Homo sapiens: one gene and its partners. The protein of the gene in region 1 purifies or fractionates together with the protein of each later gene. This does not show direct contact. Each region holds a gene or a part of one and is shown in the gene's direction. Other genes may lie near its edges. The genes, in order: TKT, PDCD6 and POTEF.

Evidence for each region.
Region 2: the proteins of TKT (region 1) and PDCD6 fractionate together in Homo sapiens (co-fractionation; one large-scale study listed by BioGRID). This does not show direct contact.
Region 3: the proteins of TKT (region 1) and POTEF purify together in Homo sapiens (affinity purification with mass spectrometry; 2 studies listed by BioGRID and IntAct, with this or other methods). This does not show direct contact.

Annotation. Positions count from the first base shown.
Region 1 is NC_000003.12:53,246,019-53,249,669, reverse strand, and holds part of TKT (transketolase), read left to right. Parts: intron 1-3,651. UniProt on the Homo sapiens protein: Catalyzes the transfer of a two-carbon ketol group from a ketose donor to an aldose acceptor, via a covalent intermediate with the cofactor thiamine pyrophosphate.
Region 2 is NC_000005.10:278,057-281,707, forward strand, and holds part of PDCD6 (programmed cell death protein 6), read left to right. Parts: intron 1-3,651. UniProt on the Homo sapiens protein: Calcium sensor that plays a key role in processes such as endoplasmic reticulum (ER)-Golgi vesicular transport, endosomal biogenesis or membrane repair.
Region 3 is NC_000002.12:130,073,561-130,077,311, reverse strand, and holds part of POTEF (POTE ankyrin domain family member F), read left to right. Parts: intron 1-110; coding exon 111-231; intron 232-1,739; coding exon 1,740-3,068; 3' UTR 3,069-3,751.

The DNA of each region.
Region 1 (3,651 bases):
TACACAGCTGGAAGGGAAGTGTGGACGCCCAAGAACTTCCTCTACTGAGCTCTCCTAGCACCTTTTTCTTCATTTATTTGTTTGTTTGACAGAGTCTCGCTCTGTCACCCAGGCTGGAGTGCAGTGGGGCGGCGATCTTGGCTCACTGTAACCTCCACATCCTAGGTTCAAGCGATTTTCTGCCTCAGTCTCCCAAGTAGCTGGGATTACAGGTGCATGCCACCACTGCCCAGCTAATTTTTGCATTTTCAGTAGGGATGGGGTTTCACCATGTTGGCCAGGCTGGTCTTGAATTCCTGACCTCAGGTGATCCTCCCGCCAGCCTTGGCCTCCCAAAGTGTTGGGATTACAGGCGTGAGCCACTGCTCCAGGCCCTTTTTCTTTTAAAAACAAATTTTTAGGCCAGGTGTGATAGCTCACACCTGTAATCCCAGCACTTTGGGAGGCCAAGGTGGGTGGATCATTTGAGGTCAGGAGTTCGAGACAGCCCAGCCAACATGGTGAAACCCTGTCTCTACTAAAAAATACAAAAAAAATGAGTCGGGCATGGTAGCAGGCACCTGTAACCCCAGCTACTCGGGAGGCTGAGGCATGAGAATCGCTTGAACCCGGGAGGCGGAGGTTGCAGTGAGCCAAGATTGTACCACTGCACTCCAGCCTGGGTGACAGAGTGAGAACTTGTCTCAAATAAATAAATAAATAAAAATAAAAACAAATTTCTAGCAGCTTGATTAAGGTATAATTGGCGTATCATAACATTGTAAGTGATTTTAATGAATTTGCAGAGATTTACTACAAAAATTTACCACATCTCCTAAAAGATCTCTTCTGGACATTTGCTGTCACTCCCCATTTCCACCCCCAGTCCTGGGCAACCACTAATCTAATTTTCTGTCTCTAAATTTAACTCTTCTAGACATTTCATATAAATGCAATTATACAGAATGAGTTCTTTTGGGTCTGGCCTCTTAGCATAATTTTTAGAGGGTCATCCATGTTGTAACATGAATCAGTACTTTGTTCCTTTTTTTTGGGGGGTGGGGGGCAGGGTCTCCACTGTGTCCCGAAGCTGGAGTGCAATGGCACAGTCATGGCACACTGCAGCCTCAACCTCCCGGGATCAAGCAGTCTTCCCAGCTCAGCCTCCTAAGTAGCTGGGAGGCACTCACCACCATACACAGCTAATTTTAAAAATTATTTGTAGAGACAGGGTATGTTGCTGAGCCTGGTCTCAAATTCTGGGCTCAAGTCCTCTTCCTGCCTTGGCCTCTCAAAGTGCTGGAATTAACAGGCATGAGCCACCACGCCCAGCCCTTCATTTCTTTTTACGGCTGAATATTCCGTTGTGTGGACATAGTGCATTTTGTTTATCCATTCACCAGTTTTTCTTAGCATTTTGCTCTTATCCTAGCTCTGCTGCTGGCAGGCCGTGTGACTTTAGGCAAGTCACTTTCTGTGAACCTTAGTGGCCCCATCCTCCGAATGAAGCATAGTCTAATATTTACTGAGCAATTGCTAATTTCTATGCATGGTGCCACGTTCTGTACATACACACTACATCATTTAGTCAGATTCTTCTTTTACCTCCGTTTTATAGTGAGGAAACTGAGGCTCAAAGAGGTTACAGCCCCAAGGTTACTAGGATACATCATGTATTCATTTGTGCACTCAGTTTGTGCCTGGTACTATTCAAGCCTGTGGATACAACAGTGAAAGGCCCAAAGCTCTGTCCTCAAGGAGCTTGTATTGCAGTAGGGTAGACAGGCAATAACCACCTAATGTCAGGTGGCAAGCATGAGTGAGGGGAAGAAGAGCTATTTTAGACAGTGTGGTCAGGGAGGGCTTCTTGGAAGAGGTGACATGGGGCAGAGATCTGAAGAAACAACCTGAGGTCTGGAGCCAGAGGTTCTTTCCGGGCAGAAGCCAGCTCGGGTAGTTCAGGGCACAGGAAGAGCAAGAACTGCTTCTGATGTTCATTTCCACCCTGACATCCTGGGATTCTCTCCTGAGTATTTTTTTTTTTTTTTTTTTTTTTTGAGGTGGAGTCTGTTGCCTAGGCTGGAGTGCAGTGGTGCGATCTCGGCTCACTGCAGCCTCTGCCTCCCAGGTTCAAGCAATTCTCCTGCCTTAGCCTCCCATGTAAAGTAGCTGGGACTAGTGGCCCGCACCACCATGCCCAGCTAATTTTTGTGTTTTTAGTAGAGGCGGGGTTTTGCCATGTTGGCCAGGCCGGTCTTGAACTCCTGACCTCAGGTGCCTCAGGTGAGCCACCGCCCCTGGCCTCTTCTAAATTTTTTTTTTTTTTTTTTTTTGAGGCTGAGTTTCACTCTTGTCTCCCAGGCTGGAGTGCAATGGTGAGATCTCAGCTCACTGCAACCTCTGCCTCCCAGGTTCAAGCGATTCTCCTGCCTCAGTCTCCCAAGTAGCTGGGATTACAGGCACCCACCACCATGCCCAACTAATTATTGTATTTTTAGTAGAGACGGGGTTTCACCTTGTTGGCCAAGCTGGTCTCAGACTCCTGACCTCAGGTGATCCACCTGTCTCTGTCTCCCAAAGTGCTGGGATTATAGGCGTGAGCCACCTGAATATTTAAAAAAAAAAAAGTATATGCATAAAGAAGAAGATAAATGATGTACTCTTGTCATAAATAATGAACCTGTGTGTAGCTGCTCCCAGGATTAAGAACTAGTACATTACAGTGATTTTTGGAACTACAGTGGGTCCCTCCATCCTCATCTTCCCTTCCCCTGAGAAAGAACTATACCCTGAATTTTTTGTTTGTTATCATTCTATTGTTTTCCTTTTTTTTTTTTTTGAGACGGAGTTTTGCTCTTGTTGTCCAGGCTGGAGTGCAATGGCGCCATCTCGGCTCACTTCAACCTCCGCCTCCCGGGTTCAAACGATTCTCCTGTCTCAGCCTCCCGAGTAGCTGGGATTACAGGCATGTGCCACATGCCCGGCTAATTTTGTATTTTTAGTAGAGATGGGGTTTATCCGTGTTGGTCAAGCTGGTCTCAAACTCATGACCTCAGGTGATCTGCCCTCCTCGGCCTCCCAAAGTGCTGGGATTACAGGCTTGAGCCACCGCACCTGGCCTGTTTTCCTTGTAGTATATACAAAAAGACTTGTACATAAATCAATATGGTCTTCTTTGTTAAACAGATCCTTCTGCACTGTGCTTTTTTCACACTATATTTGGGAGAGAATATTGATACCGGATTTGTGAAGTGTAGCTCGCTCATTCTTACTGCTGTATAGTATCCCATTATATTAATATATTCCAGTTAACCTCGTCTATTGATAAACATATAAGTGAGTTCCAGGTCTTGCAATTGCAAACAATGCGGGGCAGCCCTGTTTGTGTTTCCTTTTTTTTGTTGTTGTTGTTGTTTTTTTCCTGAGATGGAGTCTCACTCTGTCACCGAGTCTAGAGTACAATGGCACGATCTTGATTCACTGCAACCTCAGCCTCCTGGGTTCAAGTGGTTCTCCTGCCTCAGCTTCCCAAGTAGCTGGGATTACGGGTGCCTGCCACCATGCCCAGCTAATTTTTGTATTTGTAGTAGATACAGGGTTTCACCATGTTGGCCAGGTTGGTCTCGAACTCCTGACCTCAGTTGATCCACCCACCTCAGCCTCCCAGAGTGC
Region 2 (3,651 bases), on another chromosome or scaffold:
TTACTTGGTGGGCACCACCTGCTCCCTTCCCCACCTTTGTCCTCTTTTTCCTCTGCTGGCTCCTCCGGGGTTGGGTGTGTTCAGAGGCAGAGACAGGCTAAAGGTCTTTGGCTTTTAGGTTCTGTTGGTGGGTGAGTTCCAGATATAGCTTTCTCTTGTAGGATATTTCATTTATTTATCTATTAAAAATATTTATTTAGAACACACCATTCATGTGCCAGACCCTGTCCAGGCACTGGGGATAGGGTGATAAATGAGATCAACAAAAATACCTGCCCACATTAAGCTCCTGTTCTAGGGAAGACAGAAAGAAAATACACGTGTCCTTAGTATATTAGAAGATTCCAAGTACTGTAGAGAAAAATAAAGCAGGCTGGACTCGGTGGCTCATGCTTGTAATCCCAGCACTTTGGGAGGCTGAGGTGGGAGGATTACTTGAGCTCAGGAATTTGAGACCAGCCTGGGCAACATGGCAGATCCTGTCTCTCCCAAAAAAAAAAAAAAAATTTAGCTGGGTATGGTGGCGTGCATCTGTAGTCCCAGCCACTGGGGAGGCTGAGGAGGGAGAATTGCTTCAGCCTAGGAGGTGAAGGTTGCAGTAAACCGAGATCGTGCCATTGCACTCCAGCCTGGGTGACAGAGCCAGACCCTGTCTCAAATAAAACAAAAGGAAAGAAAGAAAATGAAAAAAAGAAAGAGATGGGGCAAGCAGGGGAGAGGGCTGGGGACACAGGGGAGGGTGCTGGGGATGCAGGGGAGGGTGCTGGGGACACAGGAGGGTGCTGGGGATGCGGGGGAGGGTGCTGGGGACACGGGAGGGGCTGGGGACATGGGAGGGGCTAGGGATGCAAGCTTTCCTGAGTTCCCACAGTTCTCTGCCCCTCTCCTGTCTCACGGGGTGTGGGCCACCTGTGGCTTGCGGTTGTTTCGCGCCAAGCTAATATCTTGTTCTTCCCAACAGAGAGGCCCGTTGAGGCTTCTCTGTCCTCCATGGGGAACAGCATTGGCCTAAACCTGCAGACACCATTGCAAAGGGAAGTCAGCTCAGGCAAACCCGCTGGTGAAGAAGAATTCCAGTGTGGGGACACAGAGACTGACATTTCTTGCCATGGGTGATTTAATTTTGGGCCTCAGTTTTTCATTCCCCCCTAAGAGTATGACGCAGCCGCATCCTTGCCAGGGCCGGAGGGAGGGTGGATGGACTTATAGGTGTTGCTTGTGGCTGGGTGACTTGCTTCTGCCAACGAGATTTTCACAGACACGGCACAAGCAGAAGCCTGGAATGTGTGGCACTGCCAGGCCTGCCCTCTTAGGCTCTTGATTTTCCCCACGAGATATGCGTGCCCCAGGGAACGGCGGCTCTGGCTGTGGAATGAGAGGCGTGTGGAGCAGGCATGGTTCCCACCCTCAGCCTAGAGTCAAGGCCAGACTAGATCAGCCTAAGCCCAGCCACGCCACGGGTGCAGCAGTGAAGAGCAAATGCCAACTGTCCATGACAGTGACTTTCAAAGGGGCGTGTCATGTGCCTCATCCCAGCAACAGGGAAGGCATTTCTCTATCAGTCAGTTGGTAAATGATTATTGACAATGTGTGGGAAGGTGGAGTTATTTGAGTAGATTTGGCCTCTATTCTCATGGAGCTTCCTTTCTAGAGGGGAAGGCAGATGATGGATGAATAAATATAAATGATTCTAATAGGTTGGTGCAGCAGTCATTAAAAGTAATGGCAAAAAAAAAAAAAAAAAAAAAAACGAGGAGCCGGTGCTGCAGTTCATTAATAGTAATGGCAAAAACTGCGATGACTTGTGCGCCAACCTAACCCAGTAATCACGGGTGTGCAAAATGTGGCGATGGGCAAGTTCCGAGTGCTAGGAGAGCATCTAGCTTCCCGGAGTCAGGAGACGGGGGTTGGCAACCTAACCAAGGTTAAGTCCAAGGGAGGGGGGTGGGCAGGGAGCGATATTTCAGTGGAGACTCCAAGGACGAATGGTATTTAGAGAGTAAACCCCGATAGAGAGGGTTTGTGTCTGGCACAGAGAAGAGCCTGTGCAAAAGCCAGCGGGGCGAGAGGACACCATGTGTTCATCCACCTGAGGGGCGACCAGCAGGCTGGAGCTCAGCGGGTTGAGAGGAGGATGCAGAGCCCGGGAAAGGCACCCTAGGCAGAGGGCACAGCAGGGCAAAGGCCTGGAGTCAGGCCTGAGCCTGTGTGGTTTGAGGAACGGATAGAGGCCTGTCCGGCAGGAAGGGAACAGCACAGGGGAGAGACCTTAGGCCAGAGCAGAGGGCAGGGCTGTGCTGGGCACTGTGGGCTGTGGATGGTGCTGGCATTTAAGAGGGGAGACCATAGACCAGGGCAGAGGGCAGGGCTGTGCCGGGCACTGTGGGCTGTGGATGGTGCTGGAATTTAAGAGGGGAGACCATAGACCGAAGTAGAGGGCAGGGCTGTGCTGGGCACTGTGGGCTGTGGATGGGAGCTGGCATTTAAGAGGGGAGACCATAAGCCAGGGCAGAGGGGTGGGGAGGGCTGGGCCAGGCACCAGAGTGGAGACCACAGGCCAGGGCAGAGGGCAGGGCTGTGAGGGCACTGTAGGCTGTGGATGGGAGCTGGCATTTAAGAGGGGAGTCCATAGACCAGGGCAGAGGGCAGGGCTGTGAGGGCACTGTAGGCTGTGGATGGGAGCTGGCATTTAAGAGGGGAGTCCATAGACCAGGGCAGAGGGCAGGGCCGTGCTGGGCACTTTGGGCTGTGGATGGGAGCTGGCATTTAAGAGGGGAGACCATAGACCAGGGTAGAGGGCAGGGCCGTGCTGGGCACTTTGGGCTGTGGATGGGAGCTGGCATTTATGCTCAAGTGATGGGAATATGTTAAAAGATTTTAAGGAGGGGAGTAACAGTTGGGATTAATGTGTATTCTGGGAATCTCAACAAAGTAAATTCATAGTTCGAATTTTCATAAGACTTCTGCACAGGCAGAGAGAAATAAGATCGCATCTACAGCTGTGTGGTGATTTTCTTTAAAAATACTACTAAGTTTTTAAACGTGATTTCAAATGGTGTGTTTCTGTTTCACATTGGACATAAGTAGATTGCAAGGCTAATGGAAAGTAGAAAAGTTAACTCATGAACATAAAAGAGACATCGATTTGAAAACAAAACATTTATTCATTTACTTCTGCTGCAGTTTTCTTGACTGCTGAATTTCGTAAGAAGGGATTGGTCAGGGAGGGTCTTGGGGCTGAAGACCTGGAGAGGAGCTGGTGCTATCGCTGTTCAAATCTGAAGGTGGTGGAGATGGAGCCTTGGGGAGGAGCCGGTGCTGCCTTTTAAGTCTATGAGAGTCGTTGAGCTGGAGGTCCAGGGAAGAGCTGGTGCTGCCACTGATGTCTTAGGTTGTGGAGCTGAAGACAGTGAAGGAGCTGGTTTGGCTGTTCTGTGAGGGTCGTGGAGCTGGAGATCCAGGTGGGAGAGGTGTTCTAGTTTGAGGGTCATGCAGATGGAGATCTGTGAGGAGCTGATGTTATTTTAATTGGTGGGTCGTAGAGCTGGAGACCAGGGAGGAACTGGTGTGGTTCTAGTTTGAGGGTTGTGGAGCTGGAGACACAGGGAGGAGCTGAGGTTCTAGTTTGATGGTTGTGCAGCTGAAGACTCG
Region 3 (3,751 bases), on another chromosome or scaffold:
AATAATGTGCAGATATGCATTGTGTGAATGACATCTGATGGCGCCATCTTGCCCTGTACATCATTTTAGGGACAGCTCCAGTATTTCATGAAAATTAAAATTTCTTCTAGTGACGAACAAAATGATACTCAGAAGCAATTTTGTGAAGAACAGAACACTGGAATATTACACGATGAGATTCTGATTCATGAAGAAAAGCAGATAGAAGTGGTTGAAAAAATGAATTCTGAGGTATTTTCTTTAGTTATTTTCAAATGTTTTTATATGTGTGTATATTTTAAAGAACTGTATTTTGGAAATATAAAGGATTTTTAAGTCATATATATGTGTGTATATATTCTATATATCCTTTGTCATATATCTATATACGTACGTATAGGATAAAGCCATGTTCTTAATTCACCTTCATTTGCCTGCAACAGTTGAGTAGTGACCTGCACAATGGCCTCAATCCAAAGGAGAAGTATTTGATATTTTTCATAAGAATTGATGATCTTTCCACATCAGAAATAAGTTTTGCTACTGAAAACAGATTTTCTCGTTTTTGGACATTAGTTTTTTAAAAAATGTTAATAGAGAAGTCAATTGATTATTTTTACTGATAAGAAAGTAGGAAATGTATAGCTGGGTCAGAGGCCACATTGTGGATACCATTATCCTTACTTTTGCAGAGAGGAACAGTTTGCTCCAAGTAGTTTCTCATTTCAATGTAAAGAGGTTTGAAAAGAATGACATGCCATGATACACATTTAGTAATAATTTATTGATAAGTATTTTCTTTCTGGAGAAATAGTTCAGTATATTTCCCCTATTTCACCATTACTACTGTTTCAAACATTATAAAGAGGAAATAAAAGTTACCGCAATGGCAAATAATCTCATGATTTCTAAGAAAATCTCTATAAGTTGTATCTTATTTACCATTCATATTTTGAAACAAAAGGTTTCTTTTGTATTTATATATTTACACCACAGAAGTAAGTGTGGTTTTGTGGAGGATCACTAGAAGTAGCATCAGCAGACCTGGGGAAAATCCTGCATCTGTGTATATTTTTTGACCTCTCCTTTTAAGAATCGCGATCTTAAATGAGTTCAGTATTATATGTAGAAGAGCAATGCCTAGATACAGATGTGTACAGTGTAGAAGGGTACAGTGCTTATTTGACAGTTATAAATAAATGTAATTCTTATAACTGAGTATAGAAATATTAGAAATGTAGAATATCGGTAAAACGTTCTTAAGTAAAAGAAACTTAAAGAACTTTGAGAAATTGCTTCTGTCCAAATATATGCATAGCTAAGGCTCTTAGGATGGTGTGGTTGATAGGTTAGATATCAGAGTGTAAACCTAATCTTAAAAATGTAGTCAAATTATTAATCTTATATTTTATGCCTCTGGGTTTTTTGTAACTCAGAAAAAAGGCTTTTTTTAATTCTGGGATTCTTAAAAATCCTCTAGTGATTTATTTTTCATCGTCTTTAAATAAATATTTAAACTTTTAGGAATTTAGGAGCAGATTCCTAAAAGTTTAAATATTTATTTAAAGACGATGAAAAATAAATCACTGGAGGAATTTACACTCTTATTAGGTTTGAAGTTTTGTCCAATTTTTTTCCAGTTAAATATCCACTATGGGGATTCTTTCATTATACAAATACATGTTATTTTTGAATTTCAGAAGAAATCATGATATGTCAATCTATTGAGTGCTAACTAAAAGTTCTCTTTGTTTACTTAGCTTTCTCTTAGTTGTAAGAAAGAAAAAGACATCTTGCATGAAAATAGTACGTTGCGGGAAGAAATTGCCATGCTAAGACTGGAGCTAGACACAATGAAACATCAGAGCCAGCTAAGAGAAAAGAAATATTTGGAGGATATTGAAAGTGTGAAAAAAAGGAATGATAATCTTTTAAAGGCTCTACAATTGAATGAGCTCACCATGGATGATGATACCGCTGTGCTCGTCATTGACAACGGCTCTGGCATGTGCAAGGCCGGCTTTGCGGGCGACGATGCCCCCCGGGCTGTCTTCCCTTCCATCGTGGGGCGCCCCAGGCAGCAGGGCATGATGGGGGGCATGCATCAGAAAGAGTCCTATGTGGGCAAGGAGGCCCAGAGCAAAAGAGGCATCCTGACCCTGAAGTACCCCATGGAACACGGCATCATCACCAACTGGGATGACATGGAGAAGATCTGGCACCACACCTTCTACAACGAGCTGCGTGTGGCTCCCGAGGAGCACCCCGTCCTGCTGACCGAGGCCACCCTGAACCCTAAGGCCAACCGCGAGAAGATGACCCAGATCATGTTTGAGACCTTCAACACCCCAGCCATGTACGTGGCCATCCAGGCTGTGCTGTCCCTGTACACCTCTGGCCGTACTACTGGCATCGTGATGGACTCTGGTGACGGGGTCACCCACACTGTGCCCATCTATGAGGGGAATGCCCTCCCCCATGCCACCCTGCGCCTAGACCTGGCTGGGCGGGAACTGCCTGACTACCTCATGAAGATCCTCACCGAGCATGGCTATAGGTTCACCACCATGGCCGAGCGGGAAATCGTGCGTGACATCAAAGAGAAGCTGTGCTATGTTGCCCTGGACTTCGAGCAGGAGATGGCCACGGTGGCCTCCAGCTCCTCCCTAGAGAAGAGCTACGAGCTGCCCGATGGCCAGGTCATCACCATCGGCAACGAGCGGTTCCGCTGCCCCGAGGCGCTCTTCCAGCCTTGCTTCCTGGGCATGGAATCCTGTGGCATCCATGAAACTACCTTCAACTCCATCATGAAGTCTGATGTGGACATCCGCAAAGACCTGTACACCAACACAGTGCTGTCTGGCGGCACCACCATGTACCCTGGCATGGCCCACAGAATGCAGAAGGAGATCGCTGCCCTGGCGCCTAGCATGATGAAGATCAGGATCATTGCTCCTCCCAAGCGCAAGTACTCCGTGTGGGTCGGTGGCTCCATCCTGGCCTCGCTGTCCACCTTCCAGCAGATGTGGATCAGCAAGCAGGAGTATGATGAGTCAGGCCCCTCCATTGTCCACCGCAAATGCTTGTAGGTGGACTCTGACTTAGTTGCGTTACACCCTTTCTTGACAAAACCAAACTTCTCAGAAAACAACATGAGATTGGCATGGCTTTATTTGTTTTCTTGTTTCATTTTTTGTTTTGTTTTTTATTGGCTTGACTCAGGATTTAAAAACCGGAATGGTGAAGGTGACAGCAGTCGGTTGGAGGAAGCTTCCTCCAAAGTTCTACAATGTGGCCAAGGACTTTGATTGTACCTTGTTCTTCTTTTCAATAGTCATTCCAAATATTGTGAGACGCATTGTTTCAGGAAGCCCCTTGCCCTGCTAAAAGCCACCCCACTTCTCTCTAAGGAGAATGGCCCAGTCCTCTCCCTAGTTCACACAGGGGAGGTGATAGCATTGCTTTTGTGCAAATTACATAATGCAAAATTTTTTGAATCTTCGCCTTAATACTTTTTAATTTTGTTTTATTTTGAATGATCAGCCTTCGTGGCCCCCCTCTTTTGTACCCCAACTTGGGGTGTATGAAGGCTTTTGGTCTCCCTGAGAGTGGCTGGAGGCAGCCAGGGCTTACCTGTACTCTGACTTGAGGAGAGTTGGATAAAAGTGCACACCTTAAAACAAATTGAGGAAGCACAGTATTTCAGTACAGTGGACAGCTTAGCATGTTGACAACTGAGAATAAAATGCTCAGTTCTGAACTGGACAATGTA